Regions from separate parts of the Homo sapiens genome. Here all the other regions are linked to region 3. The links come from fine-mapping of genetic effects on gene expression. A gene starts in region 3. Each other region holds a variant in brackets. All regions are shown on one strand. Distances are from middle to middle.

Evidence for each region.
Region 1: its variant is fine-mapped to the expression of LINC01515 in prefrontal cortex (ROSMAP, PIP 0.95).
Region 2: its variant is fine-mapped to the expression of LINC01515 in caudate (GTEx, PIP 0.98).

The regions. Positions count from the first base shown.
Region 1 is chr10:65,745,043-65,755,446 of GRCh38, reverse strand. The region is part of intron 5 of LINC01515 (long intergenic non-protein coding RNA 1515); the gene reads right to left. LOC105378339 (a long non-coding RNA gene) reads left to right here. Exons shown (of 7, transcript XR_001747476.2): 6 at 8,663-8,699; 7 at 9,830-9,866. Among named protein-coding and RNA genes, the nearest start is that of LINC01515, 180 kb to the right of the region's middle. The variant A/TGTGTGTGTGTGA (reference allele first, on the strand shown) is at 5,289.
Region 2 is chr10:65,775,027-65,785,430 of GRCh38, reverse strand. The region is part of intron 5 of LOC105378339 (a long non-coding RNA gene); the gene reads left to right. Among named protein-coding and RNA genes, the nearest start is that of LINC01515, 210 kb to the right of the region's middle. The variant G/A (reference allele first, on the strand shown) is at 5,615.
Region 3 is chr10:65,565,750-65,576,153 of GRCh38, reverse strand. LINC01515 (long intergenic non-protein coding RNA 1515) reads right to left here and starts at 4,729. Exons shown (of 6, transcript NR_120647.1): 1 at 4,575-4,729; 2 at 3,098-3,219. RefSeq lists a silencer at 9,016-9,216.

The DNA.
Region 1 (10,404 bases), 180 kb before region 3:
CCAGCCTGGAAAAGAGAACGAGACCCTGTCTCTGAAATACATAAGTGAGTAAACAATGATATAACTAAATAATAAACTGAACCAAAATTTTAAAATGTTAACCAAAATTATGGAGATATTGGAAGACTTGTACATTGCTTGTGGGAATGTAAAATGGGACAGCCACTGTGGAAAATAGTTTGGCAGTTTCAAATGCCAAATATAGAATTACTATATAACTGTACAATACAACTCCTGGGTATATAAGCAAAAGAATTAACAAGTACTCAAACAAAAATTTTTACATGTGTTCATGGCTGCACTATTTCCAATAGCCAAAAGTGGAAAGCAACCCAAGTGTTAATCAACAGTAAATGGAAAAATAAAATGGAATTTGGCAATAAAGAGAGAAAAAGTACTCATACATACTACTACATGAATGAAGCTTGAAAGTATGCTACTTGAAAGTAGCCAGACAAAAAAGATCACATATTATATTGTTCCATTTGAAACAATATATTTCATATTGTTCCATATGAAATATCTGGAATAGGTTGATCAATAGAGACTAAAAACAAATCAGTGATTTCCAGGAGCTAGTGGGAGGGAGAAATGGAGAATGACTGGTTAGAGGATATGGAGTTTCCTTTTGTGCTGATGAAAATGTTCTTGAACTTAATAGTGTTCTAAGACAAGAAAAAGAAAATATGTACGCAAATATGAGGACAACTTATCAAAAAATTAGGAATTAATGTAAAACCTTTAAATCTGTCATTCATTGCTAGTAGTATTTTTAATGAGCTTAATCAGCTCACTTAGGTTATTCCCTAATACATTAGGGACTCTGGAAAAGAAATTACATAAAATACTTTCATTTTTGAAGATGTTTCTATATCTTATTCCTCCCCCTCTCCCAATTCTTACTTGCCCTAGCTATGCATCATCCTGAAATATGTTAAAAATCTGATAGTGTTAGTAAGAAATACTCTGGAAAGCTGCATCACTTCATATTCTTACTAATGACTTTCAGGTCAATTTGACTTATTGGACCATTCTAATTAGCATAGCTGTACAATCATGCATTGCTTAATGATGGGGATACTTTCTGAGAAATGCATCCTTAGGCGATTTCATCACTGTGCAAATATCACAGAGTATACTTATGCAAACCTAGATGGCATAACCTACTACACATCTAGGCTATATAATAGAGCCTATCGCTCCTAGGCTTCAAACCTGTAGAACATGTTACTGTACTAAATATGGCAGGCAATCATAACATAATTGTAAGTATGTATGTAAACATATCTAAACACAGAAAAGGGACATAGAAATATGGTATTTGAATCTGATGGGACCACTGTCATACATGCTGTCCATTTTCAATTGAAATGTCAACATGGGACATATGACTGTATTCTCTGGCCATTTGAGTTTTCCAGAACAAAAACTTGCTTGAAGTTCTCCTAGTCACCTGAAATAGTTACTGCACTGTACCTAAGCAAGTAGGTAATTTTGTATGAACCATTTGTTCTAGTTCTACTGTAACAGCAAGTTTCCTTCAAATGAATTAAAATGTGTCTAGGTATCTTCTGGAGATAACAATTTTGTTTTCTACTCATATTATGAGTCTGTCCTTTATATGCATAATGAAATTCAGAAAATGTTTACTTGACAGATCAGTTCCTGGCAGGTTTTATGAATTATAAATATGTGTGAGTTATGATTCATAGAAATGCAAGCCCAGAAACATTCTAGGTAGATCTGAAGCTCTGAGAAATCCTGATGATAAATAATCTAAAGCAGTAAAACCGTAGAAGAGTGTTCTTTAACTGGATTGAAGTGATCCACTTAATAAAATAACTGAGCCATCTCAATAACACAGTGAAACATGGGTAGCATTTGTAAATACCAAATTTTCTGTTATTTGGTTTCAAATTGGAAATACTAAAACTTGGGCAAAACCACAGCTTCTTGTACTGTAAACTCAGCACACAGCTTCTCCTTTCCTCAATTCCCAGCTTTTGGTTTCGTTAAATTCTTGGTGACCTACTTATCACCAGCAAACTGAATCTTTATTTCCTTGCCTATGAAAGAATTCCAGGAGAGAAAGGTAAATAATCTTGCAAAACATTGACAAGGGTTATCATCATGCTTACTGCAACCTTAGACTTTATCGGTTTAACTCCAACAGCTCTTATTTACACCAGGTCTTTTTCTACCTTTAGGTCTGTGTGCAGACATTTTAAGAAAATAAGTCCTTTAGAGGTGTCTAGACTTGAGGCTGATGATCCTTCATAAGACATTTTTAAAACCCGGAGAAAGTCACAAAAGATCCCTGGCTTATTGATTTTAGCCCAAGAAGCTGCTGAGGTTTGGCTTCATCATATAACTTGCCAGTGGCATGATGAAAATTGCGAAAAACATATAAAATAGTTTTAAAATTAGTTAAAAATAAGTTACTGTTGGTTATCTAAAGTAGTTGCACTGTACTTAAGCAGATTCTGATGTATTTTATTTTAATCAGTGTTCTTTCAGGAAAATGCCAAGACTTTAAAATTATATTCTTATTAGAAGCTCTTAAATGTAGGTTTGTTTTTAAATCTGAAAATATTTTGTAGTTGTTAGTATTCTTGAGTGTCTGAACTGTTGTTCTCAACATTTACAGTTATTCTGATCTCCTTGTTCTAAATCCCTTATTAGCAATGTTTGTAGAATAGAAATGAACTAGAATTCATATCACATGCAAGGATCCTCACAAAATAAAGCATGCTGTATTAATGAGTTTATATAAGATTGTCCTTGAAAAGTAGCTTATACAATAGTTTTTATATTTTTCTTGTAGCAAAATAAAGTTTGCTACAAATAAATATTTTGGAAATTACTAGCCAGAGGCAATGCCTGCCATCAAATAGCCCAAATAAGAAGAGTTTCATGCTTGTACATAGGTGTGGGTTTGTATTGTGTATGTGACATGTTGCATTATTGTACAGATGGTATGTCATTATGTATTATTGACTAAAGGAGTCTACATATAGTTTTAAAAGAACTATCTCCTGATAATTCTAGCTGCAATAAAAGAAAGAAAAAAATTGATTTTCAGAAACATATAGTTGAGATATGACTAGCATTTTCTGAGGATGTCATCATATTTTTATTTAAAATGTTGTCAAATAAAGGATTTAAATATTCAATAGACAAAAGTCTACCATTCCACTAAAATTACAATTCTTCTTTTAAATTGTGGTAACAGAATGTTGCCAGATATCTGTGTGGCCAATTCAGTGATTCCTACCAGTGGTTCTCAAACTTTTGCATGTGTCAAAATAACCTGGAGTTTTGTTAAAACATGTATTGCTTGGCCCCACACCCAGAAATTCTGAATTACTAAGTCTGGGGTGAGGCTTGAGAATGTTCTGACAACTTTCTAGATGATCCTGATGCCTGGTTCAGGGAACATACTTTGAAAACCACAGATCAATTCTGAAACAGAAATCATCAATAATCTTGTGCTAAAACAGAAATTCGAGAACAAAGAAAAATTACAATTTTTTTGTAAGGAAAACAGTCAAAAACATATCCAAACACATTCATATGATTGCATAACATACACAATCACAAACACATTTTTTTAATCAGGTAAACTGTTGAGTGTTAGTCAATATATTACAGCTCCTTGTAGAAAGTTAAAAGATATAAAAATAATAAAACACCTGTATCTTCACTATTTTATGTATGAACATATATGTATCTAGCTACCAATCTAGCTAGCTAGCTACCAGTCACCTACAGTCATGCAACACATGAAGGTGTTTCAGTTAACAATGGACAGCGTATATGACAGTGGTTCCATAGGATTATAATATTTTATTTCTACTGTGTGTTTTCCATGTTTAGATATGTTTGGATACTACAAATACTATTTTGTTACAATTGCCTACAGTGTGAAGTAGAGTAACATGCTGTACAGGTTTGCAGCCTAGAAGTAATAGGTTATACCACATAGCCTAGGTGTGTAGGAGGCCATACCATCTAGGCTTGTGTAAGTGCACTCTGTGATGTTTACCCAGTGATGAAATCACCTAAGGACATATTTCTCAGAAAGTAACCTCATTGTTAAGTGACACATGATTCTATTTAGAGTCATTTTTTATTATTCATGGTAGTTAGGAAATATAAAGTTGCTGCAAACACTGAATTTGCAAATACTAAACCATTGTTCCTAAGGGAAACACAGGGTTAGGGCCCTGAGAGCTCTGGTTATATTTTCATATAACCAGATTTTATATTTATTTTCAACTGATTCATAAATGGCCTTATTTTATGTGTGTTTCTATTTGAAGACATCTTTTAAAATACATAATGTTGGCCAGTCACGGTGGCCCACACCTGTAATCCCAGCACTTTGGGAGGCCAAGATGGGTGGATCACAAGGTCAAGAGTTCAAGACCAGCCTGGCCAATAAGGCAAAACCCCAGGTCTACTAAAAATACAAAAATTAGCCAGGTGTGGTGGCAGGTGCCTGTAGTTCCGGGTACTCAGGAGGCTGAGGCATGAGAATCACTTGAACCCGGGAAGCAGAGGTTGCAATGAGCCGAGATCGTGCCACTGCATTCCAGCCTGGATGACAGAGCGAGACTCTGTCTCAAAAAAAAAAAAAAATTATATATATATATATGTATATATATATATATATGTATATATGTATATATATATATATGTATATATATATATATATGTATATATGTATATATATATATATGTATATATATATATGTAGAGAGAGAGAGAGTTCATTAATATTGAACTGATGGCCAACGGCACTATGTGTCACACCTGAATGAATCTTATCTATCTAACAAACATATACTCTCTACTAGGCACATCTCAGCCTTCCACTTCAACACTATGTTTGTGGGTCATTCTAAACAACCAAATCACCAAAGTATAAAAATGTAATAGGTATGGCACTAAGTAGAATTCCAAAAGGACACTTGTTTATAGTGTAAGAACTAAAACAAGAAGGCAGAGCATCTCCTGGTTTGACCTCAGTAGGCAACCTGTACTTTGGGTAATACATTTTTGCCAATCTGCACATGTCCATCAATGACTGTGAAAGTGCAGCAAGTATTAATTTTGTTTTCACAAAAAAATTTTAGTGAGTAGGAAAATCTTCAAAAATGGGCTTGGCAAATAATGAGGATATAGATATTTGGATAGACAGTGAGAGAGATAGAAATATATATATTATATACATTCAGGTATATATATATGAGACATATATGTGTGTGTGTGTGTGTGTGTGTGTG[A/TGTGTGTGTGTGA]ACTAGGAAATGTATGAACTTGGAAATTTGCGAACAACATACCTGGTTTTATTGTGACCTCATCACTGATGAGTTTTAAAAAATGTCTATTTTGGTAGATTATCCATTTTTTTTCTCATTAAGTCTAAACATCTTTCTCTTATTGCTTTCTACATTCTAGGCATTCATTTTCTTCCCACGAACCTTGTTTTTTCATTTGTTTCTGGTTTTATCATCACATGTGGCCCTTATTTACAAGATACATTCTAATATCTACTCTGATATTATATTAGTAGCATTCATATACCTAGCATTTTTTTCTCATTTTACTACTTATTTTGAATTATGTTTATGGCATTTGTGACATATTATAGATTATAGTTTATACAGTCAAATCTATTGATTCTTTTAAAAACCATTACATCAAGTTTTTTCATTAAAAATCATTTAAATATTTATCAATATTTTCTTTTGGTATGTAAATATATTTTCTATTTACATTTAATTTTTTTATCTGGAATAATTTCATATATGTTATGAGATAAGTCACTGATTTGCATTTTGTTCCTAAATAAAGACCCTCCCCCAGCTGTCTTCTCAATACCAGGTCTTCCTATGCTCTGGAATGTTTCCCTAATTTCAGTTTTCTCTTTCTTCTATCCCCCCCATCTTTTTCCCTCTACATATTAATTTATGCAGCATTTATGCAGACTCAAGTAAAATCCATGTTTTGAAAAAACTTCTGTCTCACATATTTTTAATACATCTTTTACTGCCTTATCTGTTTCTTCTTCTTTAGAAACTCTTTGACATATTTAATGGTTCATTTGTTCATTGTCTTCAGTTTCTCATCTCCACCGTATTCTCAAGACACCTCTTTGGCTTCAAATCTAGTTATTCTACTAAAAGCTTCTATTGAAAAGTAATTGTAAGACAACTTTTACTAGATTTCAGCACCATTTGATTAAAAAAAAATCTTGAGCCATCTTTCTCTGGCTTCTACAATGGCATAATCTCAATGTCTTCCTTCACCTCTCTGACAACTCCTTATCAGTCTGATTTGCTTGTTCTTTCTTTGAGTAATCATCAGATGTTTGAGATTCTATATACTCTAAGTAATTATCTTTTCTCAGTCTTTATATCCCCCAGTGAACCAACTGACTCCAGCAATTTCCACCATCAACCGTATTCTGACAACTTTGAATTTTTAACACCAACTGTAAACAATTTTTGAGTTTCAGATTCACTATTAAATTGCATACTACACACTTCAAACTTAATATATTTGAAATAAATGACACGTTATATTACTCAAATGTTTTTCTATTCCAATATTATCTATCTCATGAGAGCTGCCATCATTTACATAGTTGCTCCATCCAGAAATATGTAAGTCCTTTTCTTTCACCAACTACTTATAGTAGGTCACTGAGTTGTGTCAATTAAAATTCTCAGATATACAATTATTGTCAACTAAAAATACAAATTTTAGGCCAGGTGCAGTGGCTCACGCCTGTAATCCCCGCACTTTGGGAAGCCAAGGCAGGTGAATCACTTGAGGTCAAGAGTTCAAGGCCAGCCTGGCCAATATGGTGAAACCCCGTATCTACTAAAAATACAAAAATTAGCTGGGCATGGTGGAGTGTGCCTGTAATACCAGCTACTCGGGAGGCTGAGGAAGGAGAATCACTTGAACCCGGGAGGCAGAGGTTGCAGTGAGCTGAGATAGTGCCACTGCATTCCAGCCTGGGTCACAGAGCGAGTCACTGCCTCAAAAAAAATTAATTTTTAAAAATTTTAATAATTCTCAAATCAACTTCTTCAATCATCAATGATCTCACACTAGTTTCATTCAGTATAATTACTCATGCAAATCATTATCTTCTTTAATTATGTCCCCTCATTCCAGAAAGAATCATTATTGAACAATGCAATTTAATTATTCTACAGTTTTCTCACTTGAAACATTTTGGTCAGTTCACATTGCTCTTAGGACAAACTTAGTATTTATAGTATGATATAGAGAATTCTGTAATATCTGATATTCTACCAGACTTGTTTCTGTTTTAAATGTCTTGGCTATTTTCAAATGAAATATTCATTCAATAATAATCATAATCGATATTGAACTCAATCTAAATATTGTGCCCTACTGAAACTTGAAAGAAATTTTCCATTAGCAAAGTTTAAACAATTGCAATATAATTGGATAATGTAGTCCAAAAAAATTACTTCCTTCAAAACAGAGTAATAATTTGGCTATAAAAATACTTCTATATTTGTTAAAGTTATGTATAAAAATATACACACTCACACAAATGTGTTCTTAGTATATAGCTGATTTGATAGGCTCAGAATATATGTGTATTAAACACTCTGTAGTGGATTAAAATTTCTGTAATCCTATTAGTTTCCAATTTTTTAGAAATGATCACATTTGTTTTGGAGTAATTAATAACTGCAGTGATTTTTTTAAGTTGAATATCTTATAAAATGTTTCTCTATGGCTATTTCTGAATCTCTCTACTCAACCCTACCAGGCATAAGTTGATATTTTTGGTAATCAGTTGATGATTTTGTATATTTGATATACAATATTCATACATGAAACATTTATACTTTCCTCTTTCCAAAAACGTAGTATTAAATTAAATTGATTTGAATCTGACAGTGGTTTAGGTTTCATGCATGAGCTTGTCAGAGGTCACACATGGAAAAAGATCAGATGTCTTTGAGAGAGCACTCAGGCAAGTATTCTGGACCCATAAATGAGATACTTTTTGAAAATATTTTAGAGATGGATTATCAAAGAATCAAATCCATGAAAGTTTTGAGTTAGTACACTCTAATTTTTGCTGTGCGCTGTCTTATATGTGTTTTTGGTTTCATGCAAGTCAAAAAAATATTGTCTATGGGCCAGGTGCGGTGGCTCATGTCTGTAATCCCAGAATTTTGGGAGGCTGAGGCAGGCAAATCATCTGAGGTTAGGTATTGGAGACTACCCCAGCCAACATGGTGAAACTGTGTCTCCATTAAAAATACAAAAATTAGCCAGGCGTGTCTCCAAAAAAATACAATACTGGCATGCACCTGTAGTTCCAGCTACTTGGGAGGCTGAGGTGGGAGAATCACTTGAGCCCAGGAGGCAGAGGTTGCAATGAGCCAAAATTACTTCACTGTACTCCAGCCTGGGCAACAGAGAGAGATTCTGTCTTAAAATATATATATATGTAGCCCTATGAAGAGTATCGTTTCTCTGTCTTGCTGTTTCAAGAATAACAGAAACAAACTACATCCTCATTTGTTTTTACTTTTTGTATCAGACTTTATGAAAATGTTCATCAACGTATAATTATCTAAATCCTCACCAGTTTTACTTTAAAATTACCTTGCAGGTGATATGAGTCTGACATATGCACTGAAACATCAACAGTAAGTCTGACAATATTGGTAGCTGAGAATGATTACTGGTTTAAATACTTGAGTTTCTAATCATTATGCTTACTTTATCTCAATTAACAACATTGTTGACTATATGCTTAGATGTCATGAAAGTAAAATCAATCTTCCAAACTTAATTATCACCTCCATAATACCTGTGTTAGGTGAATTTGCAATAATGAATACAAGAAAATATTAAAAAGAATAACTAGTCACTGTTAACAATTAAACGATATTGGATTTTTTAAATCTGCAAGATCATGTAACTAGTATTTGATGAATATGGAGTGGTTGTAGATGATCATTAAAAGTTTTACCTGAACATTCTAAATAATAATAATCATATGTCATATGTTATTTGTAATACTTCACAAAAGACAAATATGCAAGTATGGAGAGTAGAAAAAGAACAATTAGTGAATATGAATTTTGGTAACATGTGATTTCAGGATATTTGGGAAAATCATTGCCTGAGTAGAGAAATCACCTTCAAAGCTACATTTTTATATTTGTATACAAATGGAGAATGAGACAGACACAGGAAAATATTAATGTGGTCTGAAAAATGCTCCTTCGAGATTTCTTTTTCTCACACAATTTTGCCAATAGCAATGACACAGTTTATTTCATTCATAGCATTAATATGTATGAAAAATATATTGTGTGTATAAATACAAGAATAAGCAAGATTACTGTGATGGCATTCAAACATAATCCTTAGGCAAACATAAGCCAATTAGTGTAAAGCAAAGCATCTGAAAAGTGGATTCATCAGAACTAGCATGATATTTATGTAATAATTTTCCTTAAGTCTACAATGAAATTTAATTGTTGTTTCACTCAACAATAATACATTCTGACAGAGTTTAGCCTTTTAAAGTCAAAATATGCTTCCTTTGAATAAAATCTTATTTCTAAATTTATTTTTTTACTGTATCTGCTTCTATTAAAATGTCAATTATTAATTAGAAATTATCTTGACTCTCACCAATTATCTTTGAATGACATTAATTATTTCTTAGGTTTCAACTGATTTCTTCCATTCTTTATCTGGTGAGTTAGCTTAATACATTTTATATTTTTTAATAGCATGACTTACTTTATTTTCTTTTTTGAGACAGGGTCTTGCTATGTCAACTATGCAGGAGTGCAGTGGCATGATCCCAGCTCACTGCATCCTTGAACTCCTGGGCTCCTCTGATCCTCCCACCTCATCTTCCCAAGTAAGTTGGACTACAGGTGTGGTGTGCATCACCACACTTGGTTATTTTTTTCATATTTTTTTGTAGAGAGTGTCTCCCTATGTTGCCTAGGCTGTTCTGAAACTCCTGGGCCAAAGTGATCCTCCTGCCTTCGTCTCCCAAAGTTCTGGGATTACAGAAATGAGCCTCTGCACCTGGCCGCATATGATTCTTTTCTATAGCTTTTCCTTAGTAACCCAAGATTTAACCTTATACACTTTTCCCAGTTATCAACATAGAAAGACAATGAAAGCAGTAATAAATGAATGAAAAAAACAAAAAAGAAGAAAAGTAAAAAAAAAAAAAAGTTTCAAAAAGTGGAAACAACACAAGTGAAAATAGGAGAAAAATTTTTAAAAATAATTTTTTCACTATATGTTAATTCCCTATTGCAGCTAATGTCTTATGAGAATAAAGACTGTGTGATGTTTTTATTTGTTTGGGTCATGTATATC
Region 2 (10,404 bases), 210 kb before region 3:
GGGAGGAGTAGATGAATGGATGGGCAGGTACCTCTTTTAGGCTGTACATTTTTCTTTCCAGTACTTTAGCCATATCTCCTGTTCTGAACTGAATGCCACCCCACCCCACCATCTTAGAGAACCTTTAAGGAACTAAGTAAGGTTAAAGGCAGTAATAAGGGTGGGACCCTTATGAAATAGAAGTTGTATCTTTATAAGTAGAGTGACACCAGATCTCTCTCTCTCTCTCTCTCGCTGTAAGCACAGAGGAAAAGGCCATGTGAGGACACAGCAAGAAGGTGGGTGATTTGCAAGCTAGGAAGAGAGTCTTCACCAGAAACCAAATTTGCTAGTATCTTGCTCTTGAAATTCAAGCCTCCAGAATCGTGAAAAATAAGTTGGTTGTTTAAGCCACCCAATCAGTGGTACTTTGTTATGGCAGCCCAAGCACACTAAAGCATCCCCAGTACCTGATATGCATCATTTTAATTGCTTGGGTTATTATTAACTCTTCTTGTATTTTCCTGGTTCTTGGAATAGTTTCTTTGCACATTCACTCATTCTGTCACTTTATGGACTCTTACAGACATTTTTGTTTAAACAACATATTATCTCAGTGAGAAATTTGGAGTTCAAGATGAATAAGTAAATTTTCCAGGGTTTAAAAATACATTATTGCTGGTCTAGTTTTGAATTGTTAGGCTATTTTACTTAATTTTATTCTCATTTAAAACAAGTAGCCAGAGGAAAAAATTGTGAAGTACATATATTAGGAGGATTCTCTCCTGGCTCCATTATACTAAGAGCTGGTTACATATGTAAGATAATTGTTTACCCATAAGGCCCATGGAATAATATCCTGTCCCCATTGAAAGGAATGTGAGAAAGTAATTTATTACTAACTGAGCACTGAGGTATTTGATGTCTTTCACTTATCATAACTAAGTAAACAGTCTTTAGTTTACAAATGAGGAAACTTGATTCAGAGGTGTTTAATTTTCCAAGCTTATATTGATAATGGACACAGTATATAAGATTTGAACTTAGATATTGCTCCAAAGATTCTGATTTTCCAGGAAAATTTCCTTATAGTAAGCAGAGTAAAATTAGCTGTCAAAATAGGATGCTTTCTAACCCTCCTGTAAGTGAATTTGTCATTTGGAGCATATTTTATTTGTAAACATTTCAAATTTCTCATTTGTGAAAATGCCAAACATCCATACCTGAAAACTTTACATTTCATGAAGCAGGCTGTAACGTACCCTTCAGTGAGTTGGGGGTTAAAGTGGGCTTTTCAACAAGCAAGGCAACACTGACCTGCAGGCAGAATGCTTCAACAAATCAGTCAGATTTGCTTACTGGACTCATGTCTCCTGCTAAAGTCGCTGTCACAGAATTACTTTTATTTTGTGCTCACTGTACTAAATTTTATTAATTTTTAAAAAAATTTTTAGATGTTTCTGATTCCATAGTGTTTATTATCCAGTTCTCTTAGCAAAAAAATTCTGGTATTTATAGAAAATGCAGAAGACAAATGATAAGCAAATATATATCCCTCAGAGAAAAAGATGCTACATCCAGATATTATTATGCAAATTTGCCAAGCAAGGTCAAAGTGTACTAGTGGGGAAGATAGAAAAGGAACAGTTAAGGATATTAATTCAAATCCTGAGAAACTGTTTACTGATAGGAAAGGTTTAGATACTAAAATGAGATAAAATCGATACAAAATTGTACCATTTATCTATTAATTGCCTGACTTTGGGTGGGTTATTAAACTTGGTTTTTATGTTTATAAAATTTGTATAACAATATCTCTCCCTAGGGTTGTTGCAGGTTTATTTAAATTACGTACCTCTGTGTTTTGCTCTATCTTGTGTAAAAACTGAAAAATGATTCAGAGAACAGAGAGCAAAGCAAATAACATTGGTTTAAAAAGTGTAAAATATACCAGGAATGAGAGAGACTTATCTCCACTAACCAGGTGGGAATTGGAACCAATGTCAAATTAGCTAAATATCTCAAAGGAAAATACTTAAAACATAGGTGAAAAAAGATAAGAGAATTCTGAAGAAATAAGGGATCCTTTTCTTAAAGGATAAAAAAATTCATGATATTCCTGCCAGTTACCTGATGGTAATAAAATACAATGAAATGATACCCTAACTCAGGTGGGGTATCTGATGATTGGCAAATAGGGAATATGGAAGTAAAGAGGGAAAACATCAGATGAGGAGATGGAAGCAGAAAAGTGGGAGAAGACTGAATATGTCTATGGGATGTACAACAGATTTCCTCAGAGAAATGGAATTACCCCTGCCTGAAGTTGGTCACTGGCTCTCTTAAGGGCAAAGAGTCATAAATGAAGTTAAACTGAGAGTGGTTGATGTTCAGAAATTATAATGTGAATAGGTCTCCATAATATTGGATATTAAAAGACCCCTGGAAATTTATGCAGGAGCCCCAACCTTTCCTGAGGAATGACTAGGAGATGGTCCTTATTCTCAATCTTGATTTGCTGCTAATGATTTGGGATCTTGAGGTTTGTAGTACTGCTTGGCTAAGTATTGATGCCTAGTTGAGTTATTAGTGGGTGCCCAAATTATATTTTTTAATCTTTTCTGATTACTGATAACATAAATTCTGTGACTTACAAGTTAATCTGATGGAAGTGATTAAGATAAGATGTAAGAAAATTTTTAGGTATTTGGCCAAATATCTTAAAGGGTAAGTCATCTTTAAATAGCACTAATAATGACTCCAAAATTGTATGAAAATATTAAAACAAATTTCATACATGCATATGGGAATACTTGGCTTAATATTTTAACCACCTCTGTATTCATATATATATATATATATATATATATATATATATATATATATATATATGAATATGCTTACACAAACACATAGCACCACTAGCACCTCACATTATTCATTAGAGAAGAATATAAAAAGCCACCAACATCGATCAGTATCATTGAACTGCTCATCTTCTGTTAAAAATACAAGGAAATGACTTACATAATGGCATATCCACAGCACAAGTTGAGATATATATAAGGCATTATGAAGAGCTCATCTTCATAAATGGCCATCAAAACTGTCATTAATAGAACTCAACTTATAAAGAAAGTGATGTATGGTGAAACTGACATATTGAAGGGACTTGCTTAAGTATTGAGTGTGGAATGTTGACTTTCAACAAAAGTATAGAAGTTCTGTCTTGCCACACTTATTGGACCAAGCTCAGCAGTTCTTAAATTCTAAATTAAACAAATACTTTCTGCATATTCACTGCAGCAGCCAATTACATAATGCATTGTAAATTATGGTTAAAAAGACTGTTTTCTTTTGAAAGTGTGATACAAGGCAGGCACAGAAGAGAAGCAATCACCATTGTATTGCTTCCTCTTCACAGAAGAAATGTGTTTAGAACAGTTAGCAAAATACCTGGATCTCATTGGCATCTAACATTCCAATCACCTGCTATTCAACAATTTTTCATTTTCTTGATGTGCTGGATTTTGCAATGTTTGTTAGCGTGCAATATGTCATCTCAGCGTAGACACACCAGTATTATATGATCCCTTTCAGTTTTGTGCATGGGAGTGTTAATGTTGTACTATAGTATTGCAGCTACATTTTCTGTATCTCACTAGTTTGAAGGAGTTAGTTGCATCCTTAGAAGTCCAAGTGAGACTGAAGGTTAGAAACCGTGAGTCCAAGTAATAGCCAGTTCATTTAATAATTTGTAAAAAATTTCTGATGAGACGATCCAGGCTTTATCTGTGACATTCCGTGTTAAAAAATCCCATTGTAAAGAATTTACTCAGATAAATTATTGAAGAACAGGATGAATTCATTGTTGTATAATTTTAATAAAATATATATTGCCTAGGGTCACAGGACAAATCAATGTGTTATAAAATACATACTATGCTCTCACTCATATATTCTTATTGATATTTTTATTCATGAGGAATAAACAAAGGTGCACGCTGCTATTCTTCACAGAGAATAAAGCATGAGAAAGATATCAAGGGGGTATTATGGTCAACATTTCAATTGTGTGCTAGGCAAAGACTGGGCCTTAAAACTATATTTGAGTAAAGAATGAATAACTAGAATAGAGATTGGATTCTGGAAGCCAACTTTAGAATAATAGGCCAAAGTTAAAACCAAGTTAAGAAACAAATGAAAAATAGGTCAGTGAATTGTACAAGAAGGTAACACAGATTCAGGAGTCAGCCCATTACAAGGGTGAGAACATCTTTTCAACTTGTCATCTTTCTAGCTTTTTCTAAATCTTACACTGAGGCACTGTATTGTAAGGCATTTTTTTTTTTTTTTTTTTTTTTTTTTGCCATTGACTTATGGCTGTAAACCTCTGGAGGGAAGTAAGAGGTGGCAAGGGAACAAAGCAGGGTAGTATGAAAATGTAAGCATGAAAAATGAATGAAAGATGAGAGAAGGGGTCACTTGGGCATCAGCTGAGTATGACAGGCTCAAGCTCAAATGGAGCTCTGGCAGAAAGTTGACTGTATCCCACAGGTTATCATTCCAGATAGCGGCAGAGTTCTGGTGGTTTGCTAGTAGCCAGCTGATCAATGTATTTATGCCCTAATTTATGGCTTATCATTAGTCTGCCCCTCAGAGACATTTAATGGTTATTTTTTGGTGCTATTTATTTATCTACTTATTTATTTTCCTGCAGAATCATAACACAAAGCTTATATTATCTCAAACAGCTGAAAATGCAATGTTTGAACCCCTAGTTTCCCTAGCCTTTCCATCTCATGCCAGAGTAGGGGCTGGTACACTACAAAATCAGAACGGCCAGGGTTGAAAAATGAAAATTACTGTAAAAATATGCTACTGGTACCAAAAGATTTGGAATTCAGGCTTTGATTCTGACGGAAAAATGGTTAATGTTTCTGAAATGATGTAACTTAAAAAGTCTCAACAGATATAGGTTAGAAAACTTGATGTTAAAGACAGTGGATCCTTAAGCTCTCCCAGAATGCAGTGGGCAACCAGGGAGCCCAGGCTGTCATGGGATTCCTAGGGTGTCAATTTGCCAGCCAGAAACCTCTGTGGCTGGTGGTGCCTCTGCTTAGGTTTTGCTTGTGCTCGCTGGGCTCATTCCACCCACTCAGCCCAGCAGCCCCTGCTCGGCTTGTGCTACCAGCCGCATCCCCTAACTGCCATGGGCAAGCCAGGCATGGAGCAGTGAGGGATGTGTGAGCAAGTGAGTGCAGGGTCCAGCCACTGCACACAGCCAGGTGCTCCAGCTGTGGCAGAGGGGTGGGCGGTTCCAGGCACTGGCACAGGCACCAGCTCCATGGAAGACTGAAGCTAGACCAGGCATATTAAAAGCAGCTTTGGCTGTGGGCACCAGCATCTAGACAAGGGGAATGCGATGGTGCCCAAAAGCAGAGCCCCAAAGAGAGTGCCACAGCCCTAGTTCAGGGAGACCTGATGTCTGCATTCCCAGAAGGGCTGCAGCTCTTTTCTCCTCATCACTCACAATGTGGTGAGCAGGGGGCATATTTCAGCCCTGTTTGTGTTACAGCTCTTTCATTCTCACCATTCAGCAGGTCCCAGTTCTTTTCCTGCATCTAGGAAGAAC[G/A]AGATACATGGACAATTTGAGGGTGAGGAAGGCAGAGGAGCTTCACTGAGTGACAAAACAGCTTTCAGGAGACCCAAAGTGGGTAGCTCCTTTCCATAGGCAAGTTGTCCTGATGGGGTTCCAGCTCACAGAGGAGAGGAGAAACATGGCAAGTAGCTCCTTTCTGCAGGGATGTTGTCCTGACGAGTGTGCAAGTCTGGCTGAGTCCAGGGTTTTCATGAGCTCAGAAGAGAGGAAGCGCATGCTGATTGGTCCATGGGCAGCCACGGATGGGCCTGGAAAAAGCACCATAAGTTCTCACTCTCCATGACGGACTCTACCTAGAACTGGCAGCCCGGCTCCCAGGCTTCAGGCCACCCCTGGCTTGAAGCTGGGGCTTCACCAGGGACCCACCCCTTTCCACTTAGGAACCTGTCTGCCTCCTGCTGCCATCAACATGCTGTTACTGGAGCCCAGGCTCTTCACCCCAAAGGGCACCTATAAGGCCTGTGCTGAGCGTCCCTCAGCCCCTCCATCCCACCTCCAGCCTCCCTCCCTGAGCTCTTCATTGTCCAAAGCTTCAGAGGAGGCTGAGGCAGCAGGAGACCTGGAGTGTCAGCGCCTCCCCGAGGGCACGCACACCTGCCAGGTCATGATAGTGCATGGGCTCAGCTTCAACTTTGCTTCAAAATTGAAGTGGGCACCAAGAGTGGGGAGAGGCCAGGGAGCAGGAAAAGGCACTTCTGAGCCTGTGGGGGCAGGGAGCTTCCCGGACCCCCAAGAGTGCAAGAATGCCCTGGTCCAGAGCTGCAGCTGGGCGGCTGCAGCTGTGTCCAGGAGTGTGGGGCTCTCGCCTCACCAACTCAGTAGGGGGTGGAGCTCCCGCCTGTTCCCAGACCCCATTGGCTCCACAAAGCACGCAGCCTCAGCAGTGCCTCCTGCACAGCAGCTGGCATCCCCACAATGGCTGTTCTAGACAGGCTGGTGCCACCATCAACATCTATCGCAATGAGCTTTCTCAAATAGAAAGCTGTAACATTCACTCATATTTGTTTACTGTTTTCCAACATTTATAACCACCACCCCATCTCAATTGAAAGGAACCACTTTCTAGTGTAGCATCTGAAAACTCAGATATTTACATTTTCATTCTCCTTTATGGCTGGACATGATTAGCATGTGACCTGATCTTAGTCAAGAAACCCAACAGCAAACCAGTTGTGATACTCTAGAAAAGGGTACCATCCGTAATTAAAAGTGACTGCTAGGAGAAAAGGCCCTCCTTATCAACCAGATGTTGACATACCTGGCTATAATATCTGGAATTCTAGAAGTCTTGATATCCTAAGGGAAGGCTAATTATTTCTCAGGGTGGTAGAACAGAGAAATGGAATAAAATTTCAGTGAATTGCTAAAAATGTAATTATAGAAAAGTCACTGTTTGTAATAATAATAATAACTAAAGGTACCTGAGAATGGTTCTAATAAAACATATGCAAAAATTGGGTATAGGCAGATGCAGTGGCTCACACTTGTGATTACAGCTACTTGGGAGACTGAGGTGGGAGGGCCAATTGAGGCCACAAGACCAAGGCCAGCCTAGGCAATATAGTAAGACCCTGTCTCTATTAAAAATAAAAAAAGGAAAAAAAACCTCTTGATATAGAAAAATCATTGAGAACCATAAAATAAGACCTAAATAATTGGTGGTGTATACAATGTTTATGAATGGATTATTTCTATTTTGCGAAGTGAACATTTCATCCAGATTATTATGCATCTTTATTATAAAAGCTATCAGAAACTTTGTGACTGTGTGCTTGTGTTGTGTGTGTGTGTGTGTGTGTGTGTGTGTGTGTGTTTGAGAGAAAGAGAGAGGAAGATGGTGTGGGGGAAGAGGGAGAGAAAAGAGAGAGAGAAAATGAGACTTCAAAAGTTAAAGGTGAGTATAAGAATTAATAAGAAATAGAAAAGGCAAAAATGTCTAAGGCAATAAGACAATATTGTCAAGGTAGGGAACTCATCCTACCAAATATTTACTTATTTTAAGCTGCTATCACTAAGACAGTAAACTTTAGGGCATAAACAGAAAAGAAGAAAAGTAGAAGAGAAAAGTAGATCTCATGTTAAGTTTTCTTACCACACACAGAGGTAGAAGAAAAGTTAGAAAGAAGATGGACATGTTCATGGTCGTAATGGTGATGGTTTTGTAGTGTATACTTATCCCCAAACTCAACAAGTTGTATACATTAAATAATGTATAGTTTTTACAAGCCAATTATTCGATTTTTAACAAGAATGTCAAGACCATCCAATGGTAGAAAAATAATCTTTTCAACAAATAATACTTGTGCAATGGGATGTCCAAATGCAAAAGAATAAATATGAATGTCTCTCTCTCATCATAAACAAAAGTCAATTTAAAATTGGTCAAATACATAAAATAAGTTGTAAAACTATAAAATTATTAAAGGAACATATGGGATTACACCTTCATGACCATGGGTAAGGAAATGAATTCTTAGATATGACATAAAAGCACATGGAACAAACAAAAGACAAAAACAAATTGAACTTCATCAAAACTAAAAACATTTGCTTTGAAGAACATTAATTTAAAAAACAATTTATAAAATAAAGAAAACATCTGCAAATTATATACCTGATAAAGAACTCGTAAGTAGAAGCCATAAAGAAATCTTAAAACTCAATAATTAAGACAAGAACTCAATCAGAAAATTGGCAAAGTAAATGAATAGACTTTTTCTCAAAGAAAATTTACAAATGGTGAACAGCACATTCAAAGATGCTTGATATCCTTAGTCATTAGGGAAATGTAAATCAAAGTCACAATGCAATACCACTTCACACCTACTAAGATGGTTATAACCAAAAAGACAGGAACTAACAAGTGGTGAAGAGAATGTGGAGAAATTTGAAATCTCATACACTGTTGGTGGGAATGCAAGATTGTTCAGCCACTTTGGGAAACAGTTTGGCAATTTTCCAAAATGTTCAGCATGAAGTTACCATGTGACTCAGCCAGTATCCGTTCCTAAACATTTACCTAATAGGAATAAAAATGTATGTCCACACATTAATTTGTACAAAAATACTCATTGCAGCATTGTTCAAAATAATCAAAGTGGAAATAACCAAATGCCTATTAACTGATGAATAAATTTTTTTAAATTATATATGCATATATAATTTTGTACTGTAAAATAGAATATTATACAACCATAAAATGGAATGAAGTATTGCTATAGGCAAAAACATCAAAGAACCTTTTAAACATTGTAAGTGAAAAGACTCAGTCACAGAAGACTGCCTATTTTGATTTCATTTATACTAAATTTTCAGAGTAGGCAAATCTGTAAAGACAGGAAGTAGATTAATGTGTGTTTAGGGCTGGGGAGACAGGGTTGGGTGAAATTTTTTTTTCCCTGGGGAGTAATAAGAACATTCTAAAATTGATCATGGTAATTATTGCACAAATCTATGAATATAATGAAAACCATTGGCTTACAAATTTTGAATAAGTGAATGGTATGGGATATGAATTATATCTCAATAAAGCTGCTAAAAATAAAAGAAAATTGACTGAGCATGGTGGCTCACGCCTTGAATCCCAGGAGTTTAGGAGGCCGAGGTGGGAGCATCGCTAGAAGCCAGGAGTTCGAGACCATCCTAGGCAACATAGACATAGAGACCTTATCTCTATAAAAAATTTAAAAAATTAGCCCCACACAGTGGTGCATGCCTGTAGTGCCAGCTACTCGAGAGGCAGAGGTGGGAGGATAGCTTGGGCCCAGGAGATGGAGGCTGCAGTGAGCCATGATCACACCACTGAACTCCAGCCAAGATGACAGAATAAGACCCTATCTCAAATAAATAAATAAAAAGTAAATAAAGTGAAATACATTTGTAAAACAAAAATCTCTTCTTATTTTCCTTTCTTTATTTTATTATTCTGATATTAATAAGCATACATTATTAATGGGTATGGATTTAATGAAAAATAATTAGATGATCTAACTTTTATCATGCTATTAAAAATATCATGAAATGAACATAGCTTTAAGTTGTAATTTAGACTGTCTTTTACCTCCAGATCTAGTTGTATGTAATATATTTTAAATTCAATAAGGTGTATTTTGGAATTTAAAGGCAGTATAATTTTATCGTTTCTTTGGAGGCACTTATTTTTATGTTTTGAAGTCTAAATAAGTAAATAAGGGCATTTCAGACCTAGAAAATTAGTACAGCTTAGCTTTTTCAGTGTTTACAAAACAAATCTATACTTAAAATGACTTGTAAGCTATAAATTTTGTTTTCTCTTAGTTAATAACATTATTCCTTATGTTTTAAGCACATGACATGCACCATTTCTGTTTCTATAATCCGCTGACAGTGATGTGAATTTACATTAATTTTAATTGTGTATCATTTTGAACATTTATTTTGTGTCACATTTAAAAATCAACATTTGAAATAATACTATGGTCTACATAGTTGGAACTTAAGAATCAGTGTGAAGGATAAGGGGGAAAATGTAAATGATGAGAGCAGAAAGGTCTTACTTGAGTTGATAGAAATGTATCTGTCTTTAATCTTTCTTTGGGAAGAAAGTTAAATTACTGAAAATCTATATTTAAGAAGTAATTCTCATAATAGGCCACTGCAAAATACTGATATGGGTGATTTTTAGAAAAAAAATATCATGTAGTCTATCTAAACATGAATCTGCTCATAGGGATAGAAATAAAACCAAATATTAAAATATAACTGCAGAAAGGGGGTGGAAGTTT
Region 3 (10,404 bases):
TTCTGACATTATTTTTATTTTTCAACATCGTTTTTATTTTTTCTATCAACCATCTTCCTATTCATCAGCTTTTGTATTACATGTCTTTCTTTTTCTATACTGTAAAACTTTAATTCTTGATTTTTTAAATATAAAATGATATCCTCTGAAATTCGTTTAATTTCTTGCCATTATTATATTTTTAGATTTGTTATTCTTTTACCTGTTGTCATATATATACTTTCCTGTCTTTGTGCCACATAAATCACAAATAAATTTAATGATTATATGTATATATATAAAAAAGCTTTGAAAAATATTTAAACATTTTTTGAAGGCCATATAATTTTATTAACAATAACACATAAAAAGATAGTATACTGCTGTGTTAAAAATTAACACAATATAAATATATTACTAAGAACTATAGCTTAAACATAAAACAACTTAGAAAAAAATTTAGAGAATTGGAATTTTGTAGATTCAGATTCATACCATGGCTCTACAACTAACTAGCTGTGTGTGATAAAGTTAATCGCTCTGTGACTTCCTCACTTTCATTATCTTTAAAATAAATATAGTGAATTTATAAATAAATTATTTAAAATAAATATAGTAAAATAAACATAGTAATTTTTATATTATACTTATAAAGATTTATAATAATATAAACAAATTTAGAGAAATGCCTCGCTCCTAGTAAATTCTAAATCAATAGTAGATATAACAATTATTTTGTTAAAAAGTATTGAAAATGAATTAATTAATCCTGAAGTCTCAACTACCACATATTTATTTTTTTGTTGTCCTATAGTTTCACTTTTTATTATTTTCTCTTCTTAATTTAATTAGATTCTTTCCAAATTTTTTGTATTTCTTAATATTATGACTTCTGTTAAACTTTGCATGTAAAACAAACTCATTATATACATATTCTTATTTCCATGCAGTTAAAAATATGCCCCTATAAAACCATTGGTTTATAAGACAGATGAATACAAAATGGGGGGAAACCACTGGTTAAAAAAATCATCTAATTTTTCCAAGCTTAGTAACATATGAACCAAGAGCAGATGGGGAGAGAATTTTGTATCCCTCCCTTTACTGACTAAATTTGCATCTTCAGTAAAACCTAAGTTTTTTTTTTTTTAGCAAAGTCTTCAACAATACCCCCTACCCTCTACCTCCCAACCCATGCCAGATACTGTATTGTACCTGACAGCTGCTTGTGATAGTGCATGCAACCTTTCCTGGGTAATTAAAGAATACAAGCTTTAACCCTTACCCTATATAGACTCAATAGTATCAGAATAGCTCTGATGAATGGGACCAGATACTAACTTGTTCAAGAAAGGAAGGAGTTCCTTGGTAAAGAAAGGAAAACAGGGCTCTAGAAGGAAGAACTAATAATGCATCAGAGGATGAGTTTGGAGTGAAGGCTTGGATAAAACTTGACACTCACATCATGGGAAAAGTGGAGAATGGGACTGGTCTCAAGTGTAGCATATGGCACAGACAGAAACTTCAAACTAACTTCTCTAGGTCTGTGGGTGTGTATAAGAATAATGGCTGCTGGCCAGGCATGGTGACTCATGCCTGTAATCCCAGCACTTTGGGAGGCCAAGGCAGGTGGATCACTTGAGATCAGGAGTTCGAGACCAGCCTGGCCAACATGGTGAAACCCCATCTCTACTAAAAATACAAAAAATTAGCCAGGCGTGGTGGCAGCCACCTGTAATCCCAGGTAATCAGGAGGCTGAGGCAGGAGAATCACTTGAACCTGGGAGGTTGCGGTGAGCAGAGTTCACGCCATTGCACTCCAGCCTGGACAACAAGAGTGAAACTCCGTTTCAAAAAAAAACAAAAAAAAAGCAAGAAAGAATGGCTGTCTAGATGAAATAAAGAGCAGAAGCATTGGGAACTTGGGCCCTCAGTGATGTGGGATTACTATAGGAGGAGTATGTTACCCTGGCAGAAGAGAATGCCTCCCTTTCTCACATCCCTTTTGCTTCTCTCAGGGAAGGTGTGGAAAAGGTTTTCTCCCATCTCCCAGAGATGTATTTTTTGAAAAATTTCATCCCCTCAGCAGGCTTCAGAGAATAGCTTTTTGCTTTAGCTTTACTGCTGGTAATGATAAAGATGTTTCAGTTCTCTCTCTGAGAGGTGCTTGAAATGAGAGATACTGAGCAGATAATGGTACTGATCCTCCTTCTGGAAATGAATTGGCAATGATCTGGATGTGGCACAAGATACAAGCTGAGGGTATCTCATAAATCAACAGCTAATCTTCAGTTTGATGGTGTAAGCGGAGAGACTCATTAATTAAAAAACAGCCTCTAATGCTGCTTGTAGTTTCTCCATTTTTAAGTCAATGCATATAAATCCCAGTGTCAATAAAGAGGCGGAACTGATCAATCAGAAAAGAAATATAGAAGTAAGAATTGTAATGAGACTATCTACCCTTTGATGGGTGACACTGAGGGAAGAGGAGGGCAATTGCACAGTAGCAAGATGAGGAATCAAGAGTTACAGCAATTGAATTTATTGAGATAAAAAATACTAATATCTAACATATATTACCAGCATTTCATCATCATCCTAAGTCTTTTGTTTTTATGTAATAATTTTTAATCCTCTTTCACCTCTCATTTTAAAGATGAGAACAAGAAGACATAAAGAGTGTCACCAAGGTCTTGGCAAGTTTGCCAAAGTCTCATATCTCCTAATCTGCAAAACTGCAATTTGTGCAAAGAAAATTTGGTTTCTGAACTTGGGTTTTTAACCACTGTTACAGACTGAACTGTGCCCCTTCAAAATCCTATGTTGAAATCCTAACTCCCAGTGCTTCAGAATGTGACTGTATTTGGAGATAGGATATTTAAAATGGTAAAATAAGATCATTAGAGTTGGTCATAATCCAATACGTCTTGTGTTCTTATAAGAAAATGCAATAAGAACATAGACATGCAGAGAGTTAATGTAATAATTGGTATTTATTATTATTATTATTGCTATAATAATTATTAAACAACGAAAAGAGTGAGAAAAGAATTCCGCCATTGAAAATGGACTCTTACTGCACTGATGCAAACAACTATATTGTCATAAAAATACTCACTGATAGTTTCCAATTTCTAGAGGAACCAGGCAGAGAGAAACAAATATGCTCCAAGTCTTGATCACAGGAGTATACCTTACTTAATTATTAAAGGCCATAAATAGTTCAAAGTTTCTTTGACTCTGAAAAACAAAACACGGATCAGCAATATTCCAAGCAAAGGTTAAAAAGATTTGTTCAGTTTCTTTTCTTTTTTTTTTTTTTTTTTTTGAGATGGAGTTTCGCTCTTGTCACCCAGGCTGGAGTGCAATGGCTCAATCTTGCTCACTGTAACCTCTGCTTCCTGGGTACAAGTGATTCTCCTGCCTTAGCCTCCCAAGTAGCTTGGATTACAGGCATGTGCCACCATGCCCGGCTAATTTTTTTTTTTTTAATTTAGTAGAAACAAGGTTTTGCCATGTTGGTCAGGCTGGTCTTGATCTCCTGACCTCAGGTGATCCACCTGCCTTGGCCTCCCAAAGTGCTGGGATTTCAAGTGTGAGCCACCGCTCCCAGCCTGGTTTCAGTTTCCTGAGTTCAGTCCATTTAGTTAACTCTTGTTTTGTTTGATATTTGTGAGCATTTCAGCTCCTTATGAGTCCTGTATATTTTTCTTTATTTTAATGTTACAATTTCCAAAGTTACCAGAAGCCTGTGTTTGAGAGCACCTGTTAAAGTTCTATAGCTCATTATAAACCATCTTTGAGAAGGATTAAACAAGGCAACAACTGTCTGTGAATAGCAAAATGTCCAGGGTACTTACAGTTAGAAACACGATTGACAAAGAAGCTTGGTTATCTCCGTGGTTTACAATAACTTAACATAACGACCTTAATTATGACTGATAGCATATATTCAGCCATTAGAATTCTAGAAATCTCATACAATTTTGGAACATGTATTAGGATTATTCACCCAGATACAACCTAAAGAAGACTGAGCATAATTTTTGCAATCCCATGTACCTAAACATGTCAAATAATCCTGTTTACCTCTCTTCTCTGGACACTTCAGGGGCCCTCTGACATATTTGAAAAGCCAGGTGCCAGGGAAGACAATTTTGAAACTGAGGTTTGATTTTGGGAAGGCTGTTAAATGTTTGAGGTTTAAATAACTTGATATTATGAAATAGAATTCCAGGTTACCAAAAGTTATTTATTTTGCCAAAATCATGACTCAGAAATTTTAAAGAAGCAAAAACCTGTTATAACCCTTTACAAATGTGCCAAAGAGCAGATTAGCACCTTAGGAAAATCTTGTTATGCTTTTATTTCAATTTACAGAAAAACCAAACAATACCCTTTTCTGAATTTAGTCAATATGTTCACATAGAATCTCTTCTGCAAGATTAATTTCCACAGTTCTCCCACCACTTCTTTGAACCTTCAGCTTTTTCCTAATTTAACTCAAACAATCCTTTAACCCTAGGCAAAAGTTTACATTTCCATGCCTTCTTATAACCTTTTATTAAAAAACACATTTTACTGTTCTTACTCACCTTGCATGTAAATATATTTCTAGTAGTTTCAACTCCTAGCAATTTTGAACTTTAAGGTAAAACTTGGAGAGTTGCTTTAATTGTGTGCTAACTGCAACTAAGGTGTGCCTTCTTAGTTAGGGGCGTGGTTAGTTCCATATGCCGTGAGTGAGGCCCTTTAAGAGACAGGGGACATGCAGATATTGAATTAGAGAGGGCTCATCCCCTAAGGCAGGATTGCTAAACAAATCCTTGCCGCCAGAGTTATAAGCCATGGCCTCAGGATGTAAAACAAAATAGAGGATTTATTTCACAAGCAAAACTTTGCAGAGCATACAGTGATAGCTGGGGAGCAGAGGGAGTGGCCTAGTAAAGTGTCTTCTAAAAAAAAACAAACAAACAAACAAAAAAAAAACTTTAAGGGTTTACTTGTTGAGGAGGTGGAAAAGGGGAGTGAAAAAAGGTTTAAAAATGCCTGGGGAAGAACTTCTTATTCGTCTGCAAGTGATTTCAACAGCAGGGTTAAAGCTTAATTACTCTCTGATAAAGTTTAACCCCCTGGCAGGGGAAAAGGAAGGCTGCGGTGGCTTGTGTCTGAGAACCATCTAGCCAGCTGTGTGGGACCCTTGGGCCATGCATCCCGTCCCGGGCACAGAGGGGAGGGGGAGTGAGGAGCCCCGGCTTTCCTGTCTGTCCTGAAAAAGGAAGGAAAAGGCCTTTCCCCCGACGACCCCCAACGGAGCAACGGAGTTTGGGGTCGTGTTTCCCCCACCCTCAGTAGTCTGAGGATGAAAATGCTTAGGATCAACAGTGAGAGGTTTTGAGTCCCCATTTCACTCACTGTTTCTTGAGCTCCCCTGTTGCGCGCCAAAAAGCAGGACTTTCCCTTAGTTCAGCTAAAGACTGGGTCCTTGTCCATTCCACGACCACGACAATTTAGGCTCATAGATGGTTTGAAGGGTGAGTAAAGCAGGGTTTTGTTGGGTGAAAAGGAAGGAAAAGGGGAAACAGGGACCCTCAGCAAGGCCAGAGGCCCCTGCTAGCGTGCTTCCTACCCAGCCGTTTGAATTCCAGGTTCCACACAGGAAGAGGAGGAGTCGGACTCCTGGCTGCTGCAAAGGGCACCAACTTCTGTATTTTCACTCCAGTGCGCATTCCCAGTGCGCAGGCTGGTTGGAGATTCTCCAGGGACCCCCTCCCACCTGGCTGTCTCACTTTCCGTTCTTGACATCAGACATATTGAAATTCTCTGGGGACCTATGTGAAAAGTGAAGTTAATTGCAATGAGAGAACTGGAGTTTGGGAGCTAATCTGATTGGAGGCTGGCCACTGCAGGTGATCACATCCAGGCAATTGCTGTTTAATTAAGGCAATGCGATTAATCACAGATGTCACTCACTGGTAGCAACAGATGACACTGTACAACATTCCACCTATGAAATAAACATAAAGTAACGTTTGGAAAGACAGAAACTGAGTTAGGTCTGAGATTCTCCTTTAATGTTTTAATCTGTCGGGTTTTATTTGAATTCTAAGGATACGTGAAGCTTTATTCTTCTTACCTTCTTGAATATGCCCTCAAAACTATGTCATTAATTTTGAGTTCTTGTTTTAGTTTTTAAATGGAAACTTTCACAAATAAACATTGCAACTTTTTTGCCTTTTTTAGGTATAATATAAATTTAATAAACTACTCAGATTTAAGCTTGATGAATTTTGGCAATTGTACACACCCATTTAACTACCACTCTAAACGAGATATAGAATTGTGCTGTCCAGTATAGTTCCCACTAGTCACATGTGGCTATTTAATCTTAACATTTATTTAATTAAAGTTAAATACAATTTAAAATTTACTTTCTTAATCACACAAGCCATATTTCAAGTTCTTAACAGCTCCTTGTTGGTGGTAATAGCCGCTGACATATAGCTATTGGACATACTGGATAGCACATATTTAGAACTATGTAGAAAGTGATAGAAATGTCTTTGTAAAAATTAATAGCCAGCAACATTAGAAAGTGGCTTCTTTTACTCATAATAATTTTTAAATCTATCCATAATATTGCATGCATTCCTATTTTTTTTTCCTTTTTGCTACTGTGTAGCTTTCCATTTCATTGTTATGCCATAATTTGTTTAGCAGTTCTTGACTTGGGATAAAAAGCTGAGTTAAAAATAAAAAAATAAGAATAAAAGTAAATTTTTAAAAATTTTGCTGTTCATGGAAGTTTGGAGTACTCTACTTTTAGCTATTAGGAATTAGGCTATCATGATACTTTGTAAAATTCATTTTGTGAACATATGTTTGTTTTATTTCTCTTGAGAAAACACCTAGGGGTGGGATTGCTTAACCACGGAATAAGTGTAAATTTATATTTATAAGAAACTCTCACAGGAAAAGAAATGTGTAAGAATATTATTCAGCAGTAAAATACTATTTCACATCCAAAAGAATGTTGGGGGGTACTGACAATACAAAATGTTGGTGAAGATGTAAAACAGATATGAATCTCATACGTTGCTGGTGGGAGGGTAAAATGTTGTAGGTTCTTTGGACAACAATATCTTATTGTGGTTTTAATCTGCATTTTCCCATTGACTGAAGCTGTTAGACAGCTTTTCATGTGTTAATTGGGCATTCTTAGATCTTCTTTTGTGACATGTTCATTTATTTCTTTTGCACTTAAAACAATTAGTTATCTGACATTTAATAGACAATTTTTAGGAGTCCTTTTATGTATTTTAAGTATGCTTATTTTGTCTGATATGTTATTGCATATTCTTTTTCAAGATTTATATCTTAACCTATGTAAATTATAAGGCTAAATGTCTAGTTAGTTATAGGAAGGTGTGGAGCACCAGATTAGAATTTTTTTTAAGTAAACCGCAATGTATCAGAGAGTATGCTCTAAGTGCAATGAGTCCAAAAAATATCAAAGCCAAGAGAAGTAAATAGGGGGTCCTCTATCCAAGAAACTTTAAAAGCTATAGAAAAGAACACAAAGGAAAGAAAAAAACTCCAAAGCCTGTAATTATTTAAAGATTTAATTTCTTATAACTGTCTTTTTAACGTTTCTAAACTTGTATGGCAAACAATAGCATATATTTAGACAATGGAAAACATAAAATTCAATAATTGCTTTTTTTTATAAAATAAAATTGACCATTTACTATTTGGCATATTCAAATTATATAAATTATATAATAGATGCCATATTCAAGATGGCTGGCAATTTTAGCACAGAAAATAGAACAAAGACAACCAAATCTATGCTCTTATAATAATAATGATTTTTAAAAAGCCTCATATCTTTGGTTTCACTTATTTGTGTATAGAACTTCTAATTAGTAAAATTGCCAATATATTTTTATGAATCCTTTGGTTTTACCTTCTGGGTATCTAGAAAACATAGATTTCAAATGTATAAATGATATTTAAAATTCAATTCCAAATTTTTAAAATATTCAAAATATGATATTCAGAAGGTAATAGTATGTGCTTGCAAAATCTATTCATTTTCTCTTAACATTTTGGAGGCAAAATCTTTTACTTCTTCTATACAAAAAAACCCATAATTTTTAGTTTGGGCTGGGAGTCCCAATCTTTAACTTGGCTACATGTGGTCAAATTGCATGGCTCCCCAAACAGAAATGATTGTTATCCACCCCCACACAAAAACCCCACACATCCCAACAAACACACAACATGACATCAGAAAAATCTTTGGATTTTATCTAATATACATATTCAACATAATATACAATTCACCTGAAGCTGTTTATAAATATCTATTTGTCCCATATTCAAGTAAGAACACAGATGATTCAAGTATGCAGGTATAACAGTCAAATGTGTTCTCTCCAGTGTTATTTGCTGTTAAGTTTAAATGATATGCAAGGAAGAAGTCAGAGCTAACAATAAATCTTTACTTTCTACTCCTTTCTTATTCATCATGCACACAGACACATCTATAGACAACATAAAATCTGCACAGACACATCCACACAGTTACAAGCATTTATATAGACACACACACACATGCAAACACACACACTAATATAGCCATATATTCCTCAAGTAATATGATTTTTCTTAACTTTCCACATGCCCCCTAGTTGTTCTAGTCTACTAGGCAGTCATTATAAGAAATAATTATTCTATAGTTTGAACATGTAAGTATAGATATTCTTAGGCTAACAGATTACCATATTGCCTGATTTAAAAAAACAAAAACAAAACTCAGTCTCAAAAGTGAACAATGTCAGATGCCACTCTTGGTTTTGAATATTACTTTATCCTAGTTAGGGCCACGGATGCACATTTTTATTTCAACTTTAAGCTATGAAATGTAAAGTTGTTTACAAAAATATATGGGAGTTCTACTGTTTGAGTTATAAAGTAGACCTTGATCTGAAGAATAGAAAGAGATTTCTAACTGTGCTCTCCAGAAACTGAAAAGCCTGGTTGTATTAAGAGTGAGTGTTCTTTCTCTGGAAGTACTGAAGCAGAAACTGCACAGTCACTACTCCTAAACCTTTCTGAAGGCATCAATCCATGAGGCAGCCAGTTAAATGAGATGCCCTCTGAGGTTACTTCCAAACTGTAGTTTCTGTAATTCTACCAATTTCTCCTGATTTTAACATCTCAACAGTTTATCAGAGCGAAGTGTCTTCTAACATGATTGCTTTGCCTAATTATTTTTAGAACAGATGAAATTATATATACATAAACATTTTTTAAAAAGACATTAATAATTAGTTACTGTCTCTAATTATTTACATATGACTTTTCTAACTGAGACTAAAACTTTTTTTAGAATTGTGTACGTACGTTAAGAATATAGTTTTCAAGTTAAAGTAAGACAACTGACCAAATTATTTGAGAGCAAGTAGATATTCAAAGAAAGTTTAGATCTTTACAATTTCTTTTCAGATGGAAGAAATGTATTAACTCCTCCATTCTGTTCAGAGTAAGCAAAAGTTGTTATACCTTCAACATGTTCTGTTAATGAATTAATTGGGAAATACCTTTTAGTTTTTGAAATTCCAGGATTTGTGAGGTTCAAGTATAGAAGTTTTTGAGGAAGGCGAAATGAAAAGGAGCCCTGACTGCCTGAGGTGGAGATGAAAAAGTACGTTAAAAACATTCGAAAGAAACATAAAGGCAGAGACAAGCATAATTGGATTTTGTAATAGGATTGCTGAGATAGGTTCACGTTCAAAATCATATGAAGCATTCTGTTTTCTTGGTTACTGGTTAGCAAGAGATATTTTATAGGGAACTCATCTGCAACCATGGACACCTTTTTAATTAATAAAGAATATTCATGTTTTAGAATATCAAAGCAAGAAAAATTGCACAGACAAGTCATTGTTTTCTATGTAAAGATAAAAAACTGTTTCATGCATAAATTCAAGAAAATTGAGAGTATCCTATTCTATCTGCATAATGTGGCATTGAGCAAGGCTTGGAGTTTTTAATTGTTTTTCCATTGTTATTTTGAAAAGCATTTAGAAAAAAATACCAGTCTGATTTTCTTTCCACAGGACTCAAATGACAATCTTGCTCAACCTGTCTTAATGCTTTACAGATTATTTTTGTACATTCTCATTGTATTCTTGGAGTACATTACTTATCAATTGTGTTCATGACACTTCCTACAGATATTTTATCTCTTCATGAAGATAGTAAACTAGAAAAATTATGTCATTCATTCTTTTTCTTATTTATTCCTCCAAAAATTCTTAAAATATTGCTTTATTGTCATTCTAAATATCTGCTTTATTAACCTACCCATAATGTCATATTTTGCTCTTTCAAAAGTAATACTAAGTTAACCACACAAAG